Linked DNA regions of Homo sapiens: region 1 is linked to region 2. Evidence: fine-mapped expression QTL. A gene starts in region 2. The other region holds a variant in brackets. All regions are shown on one strand. Distances are from middle to middle. Region 1 overlaps RBM28 (RNA binding motif protein 28). Region 2 holds the start of RBM28 (RNA binding motif protein 28).

The links. PIP is the estimated chance that this variant, and not a neighbour inherited with it, causes the effect.
Region 1: its variant is the best candidate, but not a certain one, in a credible set for the expression of RBM28 in whole blood (INTERVAL, PIP 0.64).

Annotation. Positions count from the first base shown.
Region 1 is chr7:128,309,462-128,318,732 of GRCh38, forward strand. RBM28 (RNA binding motif protein 28) reads right to left here. Exons shown (of 19, transcript NM_018077.3): 15 at 8,496-8,645; 16 at 8,198-8,272; 17 at 5,303-5,559; 18 at 3,714-3,813; 19 at 1-1,470. The coding sequence ends at 1,336. Among named protein-coding and RNA genes, the nearest start is that of RBM28, 30 kb to the right of the region's middle. The variant G/A (reference allele first, on the strand shown) is at 4,651.
Region 2 is chr7:128,339,630-128,348,900 of GRCh38, forward strand. RBM28 (RNA binding motif protein 28) reads right to left here and starts at 4,279. Exons shown (of 19, transcript NM_018077.3): 1 at 4,047-4,279; 2 at 4-162. The coding sequence starts at 4,164. It also overlaps the pseudogene RNU7-27P. RefSeq lists enhancers at 4,220-4,419, 8,116-8,195.

The DNA.
Region 1 (9,271 bases), 30 kb before region 2:
ATCTCTACTAAAAATACAAAATTTAGCCAAGAATGGTGGCGTGCACCTGTAGTCCCAGCTACTTGGGAGGGTGAGGCGGGAAAGTCGCTTGAACCCGGGAGGTGGAGGTTGCAATGAGCTGAGACAGCGCCATTGCACTCCAGCCTGGGCGACAGAGTGAGACTCCATCTCAAAAAAAAAAAAAAAAGAAGAAGAAACAGGGAAGCAGATTTCAGTAAGGGGGCAAGATAGAGGGGAGGGGAAGAAAAGCCCTACTTTAGATAGTCTGGGAAGAGCTCCAGGAGGAGGCGACAACTAGTGGAGATCTGAGTGACAAGTAAAAGATGCAAGGGAAAAACTCTCCAGGCAAAGGGAACGGATACAAAGGCTCTGAGGTGGTCAAGAGTCAAGAGATGGAAGGAAGGCCTGTGTAGCCAAAAGTGAATGAAGAAGAGAGTGGATAAAGACAAGCAGAGGTGATAGGGCTGAAGAGCCCAGGGAATCAAATGTTATAGGAAGACAAGATTTCAATCAAAGTGAGATGTCAAACCCCTGGAGTTTTTCAGTAGGTGTGAAGCCATCTTAAGGGGCAGACTTAATGAGGATCAAGTGTCCTCATTAAGGAGGACTTAGAGAGCTAGTGGATACGATGAAAAGGGAGGTGCTCTATGAGAGAAATGCAGGTCATCGCTAACCAGGCTAGTGTCTTTAGGCCACTGCAGGCCAATTCAACTGGAAATCCCCTCATCTGACAAACACATAAGTGCTGCTCTCTGTCAGGCCCCACCTCCCCCCATTCTTTTCCAAGTGTCTCCGCCTGCAGCGATTAGGTTAGAAAGCATTTCTCTCTGCTCTCGCTTAGACAGTTCCTGCAGTGTGTAAGACTACAGAGCTGAATTAGGAATGTCAAAGAATGTTCATACATAATAAAGGAGTCACACATATTAGAAATGACGTTGTTACTAAAAAGCCACACAATATCTCATTTAGAGAATATGCTTAACAAAATATACATCTTAAAAATTCAGCACTCCAGAATGCTTTTTCAGGTGTTTCCATTTGAGAAATAAAGAATAAAAATTGGTAATAATTATAGACACAACTTCATACAATAATCTGGATAATATGCAAGAAGCATCATGTTGACTTTCAGATATTTCTCTTTGTGGCTAACGAACCACACATCAAAGGATGGACCAAAGTTCAGATGTACACAGTCCAGGGCACCTCCGAGCACAGTGGCAGTGCCCTTGGGGATTTTCTTTCCCTCAGTGAGAGACACGGGGGATGGGGAGGAGCCCAGGAGTGTCACCAGAAAGTACACAACCCAGCTTCTTACCCAGCCTGCTGCCATCATCAACTATCAAACCATTTGCTCCTCTTTGCAAGAGGTGCTCCTTTAGAAGGTCCCAATAATTTCTGCTTATATTGTTCGACCAGCTGGTTGAAGCGGGTTTCCGTCTTATTTCCCTTAGCTTTTTTCCTAGATACCTACAAATGAAAGGATTAGAAACATAATATAATCAATTTCAAAGACTATATATCACCTTACCCTCAGGCCACCCAAGAGAGAAAGTAAGTGGGACAGAGATCATATCTACCAGAAAGGGGTAGGTTTCTAGAGAGAGACTCTTAGAGAGAAAGGCTCAAACAGAATCATCCACTGGTAAGAAATTAGACCAAGAGTGAGTGCACAGGGAGCAGGGCCTGACTAACCTCCCTGTCTGCTGGGGACTCAGGGGCCTCTCTTACTCTAGCTCCCAAAGGCTCACTTTAGCCTCAAAGCAGATGAGTCAGCACAGAGTCCGGCCATTCTTGCTTGCCTGTTCCCTCCCCAAGAACACTGCTCATGGGATTTCAGAGATCTCTATACTATAGTACGGTATACGTCAGAAACTTCCCAGACACAGATTTCTTGAGTAGGATGGGAAGCTAATGCTGCTTTTACCCTTAAAGGAAAGAGACTAGGGAAGGGGAGAAGCAAGCTTGACTTCAAGTGTTCAAGAATGTAGGACCACCGTTTTCTACTAAAAGGAACTAAGGCTCCTTGGGAAAATGGCTAATGTCAGGACTGGGGAAGAGGTACCTGAGCTGAGCCTGGGACATCCTGCACTAGAAAGCAAGGATACTACCAGACAAATACGCCACATCAGAAAGACTCAGAAGCCAACCTGCAGGGGCTTCTGCCAGCCTTACACAGAGTAAGAATAATGACAGTATTTGAAACACATCAAGCATATGAAAACTCAGGATTTCATAATACTAAAAAATGAGCCAGTATGGCAACAGCTCATTACTCTGAAAACTAACAGAGAGAGAGAAAAAAAAAATCAAGCATTTATCCTGTCTTTCCTACATAAATGATATTTTGTGGTAAGCAAATAATTGACAAAGGAAGATTTTTCTTTCTAGGGTTCTAATTAAAAATGCAAAAGGATAGAAGTTTAAATAATCAGCATTCTGTAACCCATAATGAAATAATGGATCTGGTAACACTCATCAATAACTGCTAAGGCCATTACATGAAAGGCTAATTGGGAACTTCATCAATGGAGGGATAAGGCAGATAATCCTCAAATCTACTGATCAATCCCAGAATCACTAAAAATGGGCAACCAGGTAGTATGTGCCTCAGGCGATATAAGGAAACACACACACCACCTATGAAATACTCTCTTCAAGAAAACTGAACTTGAGGCCAAGCACGGTGGCTCACACCTGTAATCCCAGCACTTTGGGAGGCCGAGGCAGGCGAATCACCTGAGGTCAAGAGTTCAAGGCCAGCCTGGTCAACATGGTGAAACCCCGTCTCTACTAAAATACAAAATTAGCTGGGCATGGTGGCGCATGCCTGTAATTCCAGCTACTCGGGAGGCTACTCCTGGAGGCGGAGGTTGCAGTGAGCCGAGATTGCGCCATTGCACTCCAGCCTAGGCAACAAGAGCAAAACTCCACCTCAAAAAAATTTTTAAAAAAAGAAAACTGAACTTGATCAAGCTACCAGACCGAACTAACTACCAGATGACAGGCAATATGGGGGTGTCACAGAGACAAGTTAAATGACACCACAAAGAAGCAAATGGCTAAATTAAAAATGTAACACAAATGACCTGGTTTCTCCAATAAATGAATAGCATGGAAAAAAGGGTGGTAAGGGAGAATGGATATTAGAGAAGAAAAAAATGATTTAAGAAATTAAAAACCCAAGTATAATGTGGGACTTTGGATCCCGACTCATACTAACCAAGTATAAAAAAATTTTTTTCAGGCAATTTGGCAAATTTTAATATGGATTTAATATATCATTTGTGTAGTAGATGATAAAGGGCTTATTAGTTTCATTAGATATTATAATGGCATAAGGTGTGTGTGTTTAAGGCCTGATCAGTTAGAGATGCACTCTGAGGTTTTTCTGAGCAATATGTTTCATTTTCATATGAGACGCATTTACATGTGAAATGGGCTTTGCTTTAATATACTCTAGTGGGGAAAGCATGTTATGGGGAATATGTAAAACAAGGAGACTGCTGAAACACAGGAACAGATACGTGGAGGTTCATTTTACTTTTTTCTCTCCACTTTTAAGATTGTATAGCTCAACATTCTCTAAAAAGCTACCGTCCTACACAGAAGTCTTTCTTTTTTTCTTTTTTGCTCAACTAACCAAGGTACAAACATGGCTACGACCTGGCAGAACCATGCCATACCAAAGCTGTATGTCCTGCAGAACTCACCTGCTCGGACGATAATTGCTGCTTCTCCTGCTTCCACTGGTTTATCTGTGGCTTTGGCTTTTTGGGATGGACGGGCTTCACTTTGCCTTTGTCCCGCAACCTGAAATAACATGGCTGAGTGTCACCTTGAGTCCTTCTTCTAATTTGACACCCCTAGGTTCTCTTTGTACACTGGCCCTTCCCAAGCCCATGATAAGTGAAGTCATTCTAAAAAGGGATACTGCAACAGACCCTCTGAAAGCTCAACATTTGTATACTTAGGACTGCTTGATGCCAGGAGTTTGAGACCAGCCTATGCAACATAGCAATCCCCCGTCTCTACTACAACGAAATTAAAAAGTCCCAGCTACTCAGGAGGCTGAGGAAGGTGGATTGAGTCCAGGAGTTGAGGTTACAGTGCGCTATGATCATGCCACTGCACTCTAGCCTGGGCAACAGAGCAAGACCCTGTGACATGGTTTGGATCTGTGTCCTTGCTCAAATCTCACGTTGAATTGTAATCCCCAGTGTTGAAGGCTGGGCCTGGTGGGAGGTGACTGGATCATGGGGATGACTCCTTCATGAATGGTTTAGCGCCATCCCCTCAGTGCTGTTCTCGTGACGGTGAATGAGTTACCACAAGATCTGGTTGTTTAAAACACTCCCCCCTGCTCCTGGCCATGTGATGTGCCAGCTCCCACTTCACCTTCCACTATGATTAAGTTTCCTGAGGCCTCCCTAGAAGATGAGCAGCTGCTGTCATGCTTCCTGTACAGCCTGTGGAACCATGAGCCAATTAAGCCTCTTTTCTTTTCTTTTTTTTTTTTGAGACGGAGTCTCGCTCTTTCGCCCAGGCCAGAGTGCAGTGGCGTGATCTCGGCTCACTGCAAGCTCCGCCTCCCGGGTTCACGCCATTCTCCTGCCTCAGCCTCCCCAGTAGCTGGGACTACAGGCGCCC[G/A]CCACCGCACCCAGCTAATTTTTTGTATTTTTAGTAGAGACGGGGTTTCAGCATGTTAACCAGGATGGTCTCGATCTCCTGACCTCGTGATCCACCCGCCTCGGCCTCCCAAAGTGCTGGGATTACAGGCGTGAGCCACCGCGCCCAGCCAAGCCTCTTTTCTTTATAAATTACCCAGTCTCAGGTATTTCTTTATAGCAGTGGAAGAACTGAATAATACACTGTCTCTAAAAATAAAATAAATAAATAAATAAAACCCCATGGATATCTCAAAAACCTTCATTTATTTAACAAATATTTTGTAAAGATTTACTTTTGTAGAGCACTAATCTGCTGTCCCAAACAGAAACTACAACTGAACCTCAAGTATGTGGTCTCAGCTGGCAGAGATGGCCATCTGGACAAGAGGAAGCTCTTCAAAAGAGGAGAAAAGGGGCACAAAAGCCTGCCCTAGGAGGCCCCTCTGCCATTGATCTAAGAGTGACATCTCTGATGGTGTTGAAGACTCGCGTGTTAACCCCATGTGTGGGAATACATAGCACCAAACATCCTTTTCAACCAAACAAATGCCACAAAGAGAAAATAACTCAGCAAAAACAAACCCGCTTAGAACCCACCCACTGTTCTGTGCTTCTGCCCTCCTGCATCTCACCTGATTTTGGGGCCTCGGTGTGAGGGGAGCGCCAGGACCTTTCTTCTCTTCTTTCCATCAGGCAGCTCCACCTGCTCCACTTCAGCCTTGGTCTGGAACCCGGTCCATGAGGTAGAGCCCGCCTTTCTCTTCTGCTCTGGGGGCACCTTGCTTTGTTCCTCTGTGTGGTGTTGAGCTGCCTTCTGTTGCTGGTCTTTTGCAGGCTCTGGTTGCCCCTTCTGAGGCTCACCAGTTGCAGGCTTGGATCTCATTTTTTGCTGCATAAAACAAGAAAATGCCATCTGGTTTCTGGATGAGCTTTGTTTGCTGCAAATACTCAGCAGAAGATGAGCTTTATGTGAGCTAGATGAAAGAAGAGGAATTCTTCCCCCACACAATTGGAGACTAGAGGAAAGTGAATACATGTAGATCACAAGCCCTGCCACAGTAACAGATGGTTACTGGGTGGGGGGCACAAAATAACCATTCCCCTTCCCATAACACAGAAATAAGGGAGAGTGCATGCCCAAAATTCAAAAGTCAGTAGGTGGGACAATTATCAAAGGTGTAACCTATGTAGAAGGAGAATACAAGAAGAAAGCAAGCAACAGAAAAGATAATGAAGTAATAAGGGCTGAGAATTTTTCAAAACTAATGACAGTCACTAAACCACAGATCTAGGAACTCAGAGAAGACCAAATAAGATAAATACTAAACAATTTACAACCAGTCATATCATAGACAAACTGCAGAAAATCAAAGATAAAATCTTGAAAGAAGCCAGACAGGGGAAAAATTTTACCTATAGAGGAACAAGGATGAGATTACATCAAATCTCTCTCTCTTTTGTTTTTAATAGGCACCCTCCCAAACCAGAGTAGATTGAGAGAGATTTCCAAGACTTCTCTTCAGAAACCATGTAAGCAAGAAGGGAGTGAAGTGAGATATTTAATATTTAAATTTTTAAAAGAAAAAAAAATCACCAACCTACAATCCTGTATCCGATAAACTTATCCTTCAAAAGTGAAGGAAAAGACTTACTCAGACAAAAGAAAATGGAGAGAATTTGTTGCCAGTAGACCTGTCTGCAAGAAATGCGAAATAATCTCTTCAGAGAGAAGAAAAATGACATAGGTCAGAAACTGATCGTTTTCAAGAAAGGAAGAACATCAGGAATGGAATAAATGAAGTAAAGACGACAAGAAAAAGATGCTGTGGGAAGGAAGGCATCAAGGAAGTTATAGAAGTATTTGCACTGAAGTGGAAGAAACAGAAGATTCAAGTGAAATTAATGTAATGATAAGTGTGTGTTGTTCTTCCCTTTCACCTTAGAAATCTAGATAGGTACAACGATACAATGAACATTTATTATATGCCTAGTGTGTGCCAGTCTGTTTCCAGGATACAAAAAAATAGTGTCTACCCTTCAGGACTCACAGCCAGGTGGAGATAAGAGATGCATTCACAAATAAACCAAAGTAAAAAAAACTACACAGCTTAAGGAAGTTCATGAAAATCAAGTAAAGAGGGCCTTATATCTTTTGAGAGAGGTGGAGGCATGCAACTTGAAAGAGATCATTTGATCTGCATATGCAAAGTGAGTAGAGGCATTTTTACACAGAAAGAACAGTATGAATATAAATCCAGGCAACAAATAAAGTAATTTGGATGTTAAAAAACAAACTAGGCTGGGCTCAGTGACTCACGCCTGTAATCCCAGCACTTTGGGAGGCTGAGGCAGGTGGATCACTTGAAGTCAGGAGTTCGAGACCAGCCTGGCCAACATGGTGAAACCCTGTCTCTACTAAAAAAATACAAAAATTAGCCGGGTATGGTGGTGTGCACCTGTAGTCCCAGCTACTCAGGAGGCTGAGGCAAGAGAATCACTTGAACCCAGAAGGTGGAGGTTGCAGTGAACTGAGATTGTGCCACTGCACTCCAAACTGAGCGACACAGCAAGACTCCATCTCAAACAGAAAAACAAACAAAACTGGTAGCTTCAGAATCACCTCTGAAACAATGGCTAACAGTAATAAACAATTCTATTATCTGGGGAACAAAGTTGCCTTGAACAATAACCAGATCCCAGATTTTCCAACCTAGGGCCACTGCATTAACCACCAGAATGGCTCGTCTGTTGGTAATCCTCTTGGTATATACCACAAAGACTACAAATGTTTGCTGTATATGCAAGGGAACTTTGCTGTGCAATATCAATGAGAGCTCTAAGAATGACAGAGTCAAGAATAATCTGGCCCTGTATGTCCTGGGGGAAGATGGGTAAGAGAATGAGTACTGACTGCGTGCTGACCATGCAGTATGCTAGACGATGGACATGTATTATCTCATTTAGTCCTCAGCAATCATGTGAGGCAGATGTTGTCCACCCCATTTTACAAACTGAAGTTCAGAGCGGTAATAACTGCCAAGGAACATGCAGCAAAAAGGGCAGAGCCAGAGTATGAGCATGAGTACACGTATTCCTAAAGTCCCTGCTCCACCTTCTATACCACACCAGATTAAAAACAGTACTAAAACTATCAGGCTTCACACTTCTGGAGCCAACTAATAAAAGAAAATATGGAAGAGATAACTGAAATCTACAGGTAATGGGAAACCTTAACCTCAACCATTAATTTTGGCACGTACTATCACCAAACACTGTAAAAAACGGCTGACTGGAAATAACATTGGTCTGCTTCCTCTCTCCTTCCTTTCCCTTCTGCTGTAGAGCTATCAGACATGGGCCAGCAGATAAGAAGATGGCCTGGAGAGGCTTAGGGAACTGGGAGTAAAGGGAACTAGGAGCAAAAAAACCTAACTGAGGGGAGAACTACTCTAAGAGAGCAGAAGCACAAATTGAACAAAATAGAAGAGTTTATGTCCTTAAAAATATGGACCATTTAATTTCTGTACCAAGCTGCGCTGGATCCTTAATTCCTTCATTTTAAGTTTTCTTCGATCTTCTAAAGAGAACTCCACTATTGGTCTCTGTCAGAGGGAGACAGAATGCCATTCATTAGACTTCTTAATCTGTGCATGCAATGAGCTGAGTTTTTCCCCTTCACACATCCTCCCCCAACCCACCTTTTTTTTGTCCACTTGCCACTGTTTCCCACCCCTCAAATGTCAGAGGACACTAGGCATAAAGGAGAAGGCTGGTTTCCTGCAAGTGGTCCTAAGGGAACAAGTCTCCCCAGAGGACAAGGCCTACCTTCAGAGGCCCAAAGATTTCTGGATTGTTGTTGATGAGGCGGAGGGCTTTCAGGGCATGCTCGTGCTCTTGGAACTCCGCAAAGGCGTAGCCCAGGGACTGACCCTTCATGTTCCCATGAACTCCTTTGAGGTCTCGCATCACTCTACACTATGAGTAGAGCAAGAAAAAAATCAGTAATTACAGAATGAGAAGACTTGCCTGACATGAACTGCTTTAATAGAGTCAATAAGAAATCAGGCTATTGGGTGGGCATGGTGGTTCATGCCTGTAATCCTAGCACCTTGGGAGGCCGAGACAGGAGGATTGCTTGAGGCCAGGAGTTTGAGACCAGCCTAGGCAACATGGCAAAACCTTGTCTCTACAAAAAATACAAAAAATTAGCCAGTGTGGTGGCACCTCAGCTACTCAAGAGGCTGAAGCAGGAGGATCACCTGAGCCCGGGGAGGTTGAAGTTACAGTGAGCCATGATGGCACCACTGCACTCCAGCCTGGGCAACAGAGTGAGACCCTGTCTCAAAAAAAAAAAAAAAAAATCAGGTTATTGAAACATAATCTTCATTTATACCACCATCACAAAAATCACACTGGAATAACACTTATGTGTGTCCATCTTATTAGAATTTACCTACTAAGACCATCAAACAGATTAAAATTGTATTTTCTTGCTTTCTACTAGCTTATAGACATCAACAGAGACCTAAAAAAAAGCACATAAACAAAACTTCCTAAAGAAAATTTATAAAGCGGTATGGATGTTAAAAAACAAACACAAT
Region 2 (9,271 bases):
CACCATTTTTCCCCTTTTCCTTTGTCTTGTTCCTCAGTTTTTTCTTGGCAACAGTCACGTTGATCTTGCAACCTTCAAAGGTGGTAATCTCCTTGAGGGCCCTCTGAACATCTTCCAGCATTGAAAAAGTGACATAGCCAAAGCCTCGACATGCCTTACTCCCTGGAATAATGGAGTGGGGAGGGAGTGGAGGGGCAGTGTGAAAAGGAGAGAGAATCATAAGCCAAGAGCACTAAATGAGTAAATCCTCAAAGCCTAAGCTAGAGGATATACTGCCAACCCATCTTGCTATCAGTTTGCCAAAAGTCTCAGGAGGGCGAGAAACAAGGGTGGTATCAGTGGTTCCCTCCCCACTTTGCTTAGAAACTGTTAGCCTTCCTCCTCTTTTAATTTAGTGTCTTTGCTGTTAGCTCCCCTTCTTCCCCCTTTCTTGATAATCCCAAGAAAACAGAGAATCCATGACATATGAGGCCCTCAAAGAACTCAACATCAAAAAGAACAAAACATCACCAAAGAAGGCAGGAAAGGTAAGTATATGCTATGGTTTGAATGTGTCCCCCAAATTTCATGTGTTGGAAACTTAATCCCCAATGTAGCAGTATTGAAAGGTGGAGTCTTTAAGAGGTGACTGGATCAGAGGACTCTGTCTTCAGGAATGGATTAATCAATTTATGGATTAATGGGTTAATAGATTAATGGGCTATCATGAGAGTGGAGCTGGGGGCTTTATAAGAAGAGGAAGAGAGACCTGAGCAAGCACATTAGCATGCTCAGCCCCCTCGCCATGACACCCTGCACTGTCTGGGCATTTTGCAGAGTCCCCACCAACAAGAAGGCTCTCACCAGATACAGCCACTAAACTTTGGACTTCTCAGCCTCCAGAACTTAAGAAATAAATTTTTCTTTACAAAGTACCTAGTTTCAGGTATTCTCTTATAAGCAACAGAAAATGAATTAAGACAGTATGGTAGCTTCAAAAATCAGAACACAATAATGCAGTTACTCCTCAAAATAGATCAGCAATAAATGCCTGAGGCCCAGACAAAAGAACCTCAAACAATAAATACTGCTCAGAGAGACTGCAGATGTTATGACCACTATTACCAACGCCTTAGCTGTCGATATCAAATTAAACCTTTCCAAAGCAGCTGTGCATTCTTGTCTCATTTTATCTTTAGAACACCTCAAAATAGGTAAAGCAAATATTATCACCCCTTCTTTCCAAGTAAGTAATTTGAGATGGAAGACAGTAAGTGAATTGGTTAATGTCACACAGGGTGTTAGTAGCTGAATTAACTCCTCCTCACCAGCCCCCATGTTCTTCCATAGGACTCCACAAAGAATAATATTAGGACCAAGGAGATGAAAACTACAAATATCAACTGTAACCCACCTTTGCCCTTTTTGGTTTAACATTTTGTATAGTAAAATTTTAAATAATTTATTGCATCAAAAAGGAAAAGGACAGATCAAGAAGTCTGCCTTTACCTGAAAAGGACACATAGTTCATATGCTCTGCTTCTCTTTCCACTGCATTTGAATCTCCTTCAGGGTATAAGCCCTTTGACACAGGACACTGATCTACATAAACTGGTTAAAGCAACATAACATCAATTTTTCTCTTCTCTTGAACTCCTTATCATAAAAGCTGCCCACTCACCTTTCAGAAAATGAGCACAAGAAAATTCATAGCCCTTCATGATCAGTACAACCAAAAGTAAAGCAGCTGAAATGTAAAAGAGTTTGACACCCAAATGAAAGGACATACAGTAAATACCACACATTTTACATGTCTGCATAAAGCATGCTCACATACATTTAGAGTCCCTGACAACCCTGTGAAATTATTCCCATCTTAAAGAGGTGAAGTGACATGCACTGCTATTGAGGAAGACTTCATTCCACATACCCTCCCTCCCGTTTCACTGAGTGCAGCACTCTTTCCAGTACATATCAGCTGTCTGGATAGGAAAGTGCATAGTTTTTTAAAAGGAAGTAAGAGATTTTTAAGGATTTAGACCAAGTACACAAGGTGTAAGGTAAGATTGCATGTAGCCTATATTCTGAGGACTCAAAGGAGAACTCCCATTCAATGGCCTATTCTTCCCTGGAATACAACCACCTGGGTACGGAATGCTACTTACACTGGAACCCAGTACATACATATATTCTTTATTTAAAACTTAAAAGTTTTACAAATACTTATCCTTTACCATATATGGACGTACTCCTATACTATTTAATTTTTTAAGAACTCTAGGCCAGGCGTGGTGGCACATGCCTGTAATCCCAGTGCTTTGGGAGGCCAAGGCAGGAGGATCATTTGAAACCAGCCTGGACAACGTAGTGAGACCCTGTCTCTACAAAAAATATTCAAAAATTGGCCAGGCATGGTGAAGCACGTCTGTAGTCATAGCTACTTGGGAGGCTGAAGTAGGAGGATTGCTTGAGCCCAGGAGTTTAAGGTTACATTGAGCTGTGATCGCACCACTGCACTCCAACTGTCAACAGGGTTGACAGAGCAAGACCCTGTTTCTAAAACACAACAAAACAAACTCTAGTCATGACCCACTCAAGACCCACTAATAGGTAATAATCTGCAGTTTAATAAACATTACTGTACAGGACTTTCGGTCCCTATTTTAAGTACATAAGCTTTTGTCCTATTCTCCAACAGTCTATTGGCAACACACCAGCCAGAGAGAGAATCTTTCAAAACGAATGCCAGATCACACTTACTGCTCTCTGCTTAAAATCAGTGGCTTCCTATCTCTGAGTAAAAGCCAAAGTCCTTGCAATGGTCTATAACATCCTACATGAGGCGGGCGGATCACCTGAGGTCTCGAGTTCCAGACAACCCTGGCCAACATAGCGAAACCCCGTCTCTACTAAAAATACAAAAATTAGCCAGGTGTAGTGACACTCGCCTGTAATCCCAGCTACTTGGGAGGCTGAGGCAGGAGAATGGGTTGAACCAGGAGGCAGAGGTTGCAGTGAGCGGAGATCGTGGCACTGCACTCCCGCCTGGGCGACAGAGCAAGACGCAGTCTTTAAAAAAAAAAAAAAATCTTACATGATCTGCTACTCTAGATCTCATCTCCTAATTCTCTTCCCTTTACTCACTTCAATCCAGTCACCCTGTCCTCCTTACTACTCCTCCAATATACCAAAAACACCTCTGTTTCAGTACCTTTGAGCTTGCTGTTTTCTCTTCCTGAATTGTTCTTCCTCCGGAGAGGCATGTGTTCACTCTCTCACCTCAGTCCGTCCTTCTCTGGCCACCCTATCTATATTGCCACTCTTCACCCCCTCTCCCCACTATACACATGCACATAGACTTCCTAACCCCTTTCCCTGGCTTATTTTTCTCCTTAGCATTTGACATCATTTTCACGGTTGGCTTGTTTATTGGCTCGTTTATTGGCTCTCTTCCCCACCTTGAAGACATAAAATCAAAGATTTTTTTGGTTTGGTGTTGTGCACTGCTGCATCCCCAGGACCTACAACACTTCCTGGCACACAGTAGGTATTAAGTATTTGCTGAATAAATGAATGAACAAGTGGATAGCATCCTGGCTAAGATGTCCAGGTCTGAGGATCAAATCGGGGGTCCACTACTTAACAGCCGTACAAACTTAAAGTTACTAAATTCCCCTAAATCCCGGATTCCTGTCTGTAAAATGACATTAAGACTCTCCATCCGGTAAGATTGCTGAGAAAATTAAATGAGATAACCTGTATCAAACTGATCACTGTACCTGCCAATCAGGTGACTCTCAATAAGTCTTACTGATGCTCTAGTTAACTATTTTCATTTTTAGCGCGCATAATCAACAGAAAGCGCTATAGAAACGTAAGGGAATGCTTTGCCCTTCATAAACTGACTCCTATGAACGCATCTAAAGCAGAATCAGTTTGGAAAAGAAACTCAGTTCCCTGTCCCTTCTCTTCGGGGAGGGTAAAGAATGATACGGCTCCCTGAAGTTTGGGAAGGTGCCCTCGATCGCAGGAAACCCCAGCCCTATCCTCGACCGCCCCGCCCCTACCTTTTTCAGTCACCACGAAGCACTGCTTCACCGGCCCCACCTGACTGAACAGTTCCTCCAGCTGCTCACTGCGGGCCGAGGGCGGGAGGCGGCCCACAAATAAGGTCAGGCCGGCCATGAGACCGGGAAACCCAAAGCGCGTGAGGACGCGAGCAAACTAGGCCGGCGCACGCGAGCCGAAACGCTGGCTTTGGTAGGACAACCAAGCTCACACGCCGAGAGATTCCGGAAGTGCTCGTTGCCCAAAAGAGACCGGAGGAAAACATGGTCGGGAGGGGGATAAAAGGTTCCGGAATGAAAAAATAATGGCGCCCCGGGGCGTAGCTTCTGGAGCGGGGCTCCGCCCCCTGCCCTAGCATCGCCCTCGCCACTTTTGTGTAAACTTGGCATCAATAATTTCTACCCTAGTGTTACAGCTTTTTTAGAATTTGCCTAGCAGGCTTTCTGGTTTTTGCCGGAAGGCCTCCAAAAAGTAATTTTTTTTCTTAATATACAAAATAAAAATAAATAATTTCTACCCTGTTTAAAAATCTCACCTCCAGATCCTCCCCAAAGTTAGCAGGACAGGCAGAAGAAGTCGTTTTTGCCCCGGGCGTAACTCAGGATCTGATATACTGTGGGTGTTTGATATTTTCTGAAGTGCCTCCACAAATTCCCAGATTACGTGCATAAAACACAACCGGAACACTAACACGTAGACATAGATATATCATATACATCATTCGGACGATTCTCATTTTCGGAGAACACCAGCTGTCTGTCACCTCAGCCTCACAAACAAATTGTAGCTACTAAAATACACATAGACACAGATAGTACACAATTATTATTTCAATAAATATATACTGAGCTCTAACTATGAGCCAAGCATTAGGGATAAAACTGGTGAGCAAAGAAATGACAGGGTCCCTGCCCTCATAGAGATTACAGTCTAATGGTGGAAACAGATTTTTTTTTTTGACAGGGCCTCACTTTATCAACCAGGCCGGAGTGCACTGGCACGATCTCGGCTTACTGCAGCCTCGACCTCCCAGGTTCAAGCAGTCCTCCTGCCTCAGCCTCCTGAGTAGCTGGAACTACAGGTGCACCACCACACCCGGCTAATTTTTGTATTTTTTGCAGAGACAGGGTTTCACCATGTTGCCCAGGCTGGTCTCAAACTCCTGAGCTCAATTAGCCCCCCTTAGCCTCCTAAAGTGCTAGGATTATAGGTGTGAACCACCACACCTGGCTGGGAAGACTATTAGTCCAAAAATTCTTACAAATAAATCACAGCACACACACTGCAGGACCACATCAAACACACTCAAAGCAAACATAACATCCAACTTATACACAGAGACCTAGAACCCATGTCCTCCTAGAAACAGAAGATCTTTGTCTCAAGTCAGCTCATCAGACAGACCCAAAGCTGAGAGCTCTTAATTGGCTAGGAAATCTGGGTGCTCCTGGTTCTGGAACACAGAGAGTGTTTGCCATGCCACTGGGCTCAGGACCTGAATAGGTGCAAGAGAGCTACACCTTGCAGAACAACTAGCTCAAAAAAAAGTACCCAAGGCCATTTTTTAAATAATTTTTTTTTTAGCAGACTCTTGCTCTGTCACCCAACTTGGGGTGCAGTGGCACCATCATGGCTCACTGCAGCCTTGATCTCCTGGGCTCAAGCAATACTGCCACCTCAGCCTCCTGAGAAGCTAGGACCACAAGTGTGTACCACCATGCCTGGCCAATTTATTTATTTTTTTGTACAGACAGTTCTCCCTGTGTTGCCCAGGCTAGTCTTGAACTCCTGGGATAAACCAATCCTCCCACTACGGCCTCCCAAAGTGTTGGGATTATAGGCGTGAGCCACTGAGCCCAGCCAAATCATTACTTTTAAATGATAGTAACATGGCAGATAGAAAACTCAAAAACTTTACAGTTTTAGTACCTTTTATAAGGCACTATGGTGAAAATTAAGTTTCATGATCTCCTCAAGCCCCATTCACTTTCAATACATTTTGGATGGCTAGACGACTGGTTGATAGTGATGGGAGTGGAGATTAGGGGGACGCTAAACATCACATTTATGGAGCTCTAGTTCGAAGTAAGTAATCTATGCTTAAAATAAAACTTCACGATTATTTTTTAAAAATACAACTCACGGCCAGGAGCGGCCGTGATCCCAGCACTTTGGGAGGCCGAGGTGGGTGGATCACCAGATCAAGGGTTCGAGACCAGCCTGGCCAACATGGTGAAACCCCGTCTCTACTAAAAATACAAAAAGTAGCCGGGCATGGTGGCACATGCCTGTAATCCCAGCTACTCGGGAGGCTGAGGCAGGAGAATCGCTTGAACTCAGGAGGCAGAGGTTGCAGTGAGCCGAGATTGCACCACTGCACTCCAGCCTGGGCAACAAAGGAAGACTCCATCTCAAAAAAATATATAACTCACTTTGGGAGATCAAGATGGGTAGATCACTGGAACTCAGGAGTTCGAGACTTCTGAAAATAAAATACAAGTTTATTTTTCTTTTTTTCTGAGCAGAGTCTCGCTCTGTCACCCAGGCTGGAATGCAGTGGTGCGATCTCGGTTCACTGCAACCTACACCTCCTAGGTTCAAGCAATTCTCCTGCCTCAGCCTCCTGAGTAGATGAGATTACAGGCACCCACCACCATGCCTGGCTAATTTTTGTATTTTCAGTAAAGACAGAGTTTCACCAACTTGGCCAGGCTGGTCTTGAACTCCTGACCTCAAGTGATCAGCCGTCATCGGCCTCCCAAAGTGCTGGGATAACAGGCATGAGCCACCATACCCAGCCTAAACTTTATTTTTCAACATTAGCTCCATCAAGTTCAAAACACATTTGTAAGCAATGATACCAGCCACTTAGTCCATCTCTAAAGAACTTAAGGTCTTTGGAATTTAAGCATGTCAATGCAGTCTCTCTCTCTCTCTCTCTCTCTCTCTCTCTCTCTCTCTCTCTCTCTCTCTCTCTATATATATATATATATATATATATATATATATATATATATATATATATAATTGAAGAAAAATGTGAGCCCCTTAAAGATTTTTTAAGATTAGGAAACAAAACTAAGTCAGAAGGAGCCAAAATAGGACCTTAAGGTGGATGCCTAATGGTTTCCCATTAACACTCTTGAAAAATTGCCCTTGTTTGAGAGAGGAGTGAGCAAGAGCACTGTGATGGAGAAGGGCCCTCTCTGTTGAAGGTTTCCCCTAGGTATTTTTCTGCTAAAGGTTTGGCTAACTTTCTCAGAACCCTCTCACAATAAGCAGATGTTATCATTCTTTGGCCCTCCAGAAAGTCAGACAGAAAAAAAAAAAAATGCCTTGTAGGCCCGGTGTGGTGGCTCATGCCTGTAATCCCAGCACTTTGGGAGGCCAAGGCGGGCGGATCACCTGAGGTTGGGAGTTTGAGACCAGCCTCAGAAACATGATGAAACTCCATCTCTACCGAAAGTACAAAATATTAGCTGGGCTGTGGTGGCATGCACCTGTGGTCTCAGCTACTCTGAGGCTGAGGTGGGAGGATCGCTTGACCTGGGGAGGCGGAGGTTGCAGTGAGCTATCGTGCCACTGCACTGCACTCTGGGTGACAGAGTGAGACCCCATCTCAAAACAATAACAATAAAAATTTAAAAATAAATTTAAAAATATTACTCAGGAAAGGAAGCTTTGAAATACAAAACAGATTTTTAAGGTTGCTATGTTAATCCTATCCAGGATAAAGAGAAACAAACAGATAAAGGCAATGGGATGGATCATGTAACAAAGTTGGTTTGGGACTCCACATCCTCCTCTTCCTTCTCCTTCCCTCCTGCCCACTCCTATCACCTTAGGAATTAAAATTCCACCCCCAAAGATTAAATTGTGAGCTTCAGAACCCCAGCTAAGGGGAAGCCTTCCTAGTCCTGGCTGCAGTCTGTACAAGGAAAACAATCCTGAGAAGATTGTTCCAATATTCCTTTGTGAGACCCTCCACAAATGCTAAGTTTTAAATAGCTCTGATCCAAATCTTCCTTAATTTAGGACAAATCTAACTGTGTCTCTATGCCCATCAGGGGGCAGCAGCCACCCACAGTGCAGGGTTCTGTGCCCTTCTGGGAGGACAACAGTGCAGCTGACCCTTTCTACCCTCCCCACGGTTCAGACCTGGTTCCCCGATCTGTCTCTCAGCCCAATCCCCTCCAATCCATTTATATCAGGGCAGGCAATGGTTCTTTCCTCAGGAATATTTGCTCATCCATCTACCCAAGACACATGCAGCAATCTTTATTAAATAGCAGGTGCTGTGCTACCCTGCATCACACCAGCAATGTGGCTTCCAGGGGAAATAAACTGCTGGCCTCCTCCTCATCCATCACTGTGCAGGAGCCAGGAAAGGAAGTAAGAGAGGCCTGGGCTGTTCTCAGCCAGCCTCTTCCAGATCCCATCCCTCTAGCTCCACTCCCCCTGGCAAGCTAAACCTTCTTATAATACAGAATAGTTCTTGGCCTTAACACTTGTCACAACTATAATTAATTACTTGTGCTATTGTGATTATTTATGTCATTAGTTGTTTAACATCTGCCTTCCCCCAACAGGCTTTCAATTTCGTAAATTCATGGCTGGTGTCTACCTCGTTCACCTGTCTATTCCCAGCACCTAGTACGTCATAGGCATTCAGTAAATATTCTTTAAGAGATTGAATGAATGAATAAATGAATGAATGTGAGTTTGTCTTTCAGTCCCCACAATACCAAGACTTGGAACTGAAGGGTGTAGGCATTAGGATCTACCTGGATTCTTCCTGGGAAACCCACTCTGGGTAAGGGATGAGGCATGAGACAAAAGGAAAGGATCCTCTAAACAAAATCTTGGCCTCTTTATGAAGTAAAAGGGCTGAGGTTATCCTTGCTGAGGAAAATCAAAGAAGTGTTGGAGCTGGTGAACACCGAGCTGTATTCCCTCAACTCCCTCCTGCCTCCCCCCAACTCCATTTAGAGCTGCCATACAGAAAAGGAGTGTATGTGCAGAAGTGTGTGTGTGTGTGTGTGTGTGTGTGTGAGAGAGAGAGAGAGAGAGAGACCAATAGACAGGCCAACAGAGAGACTGGCTAGGGTATTCAGGGCTTGGACTGCTCTTTCGGGAAGTGTGTGCATGAACCCAAGGACCCTTGTTGGGGAGAGTGAGTGAGAGAGACAGGAGCTGGCAAGGACCAGTGTGAGGAAGAGATGGC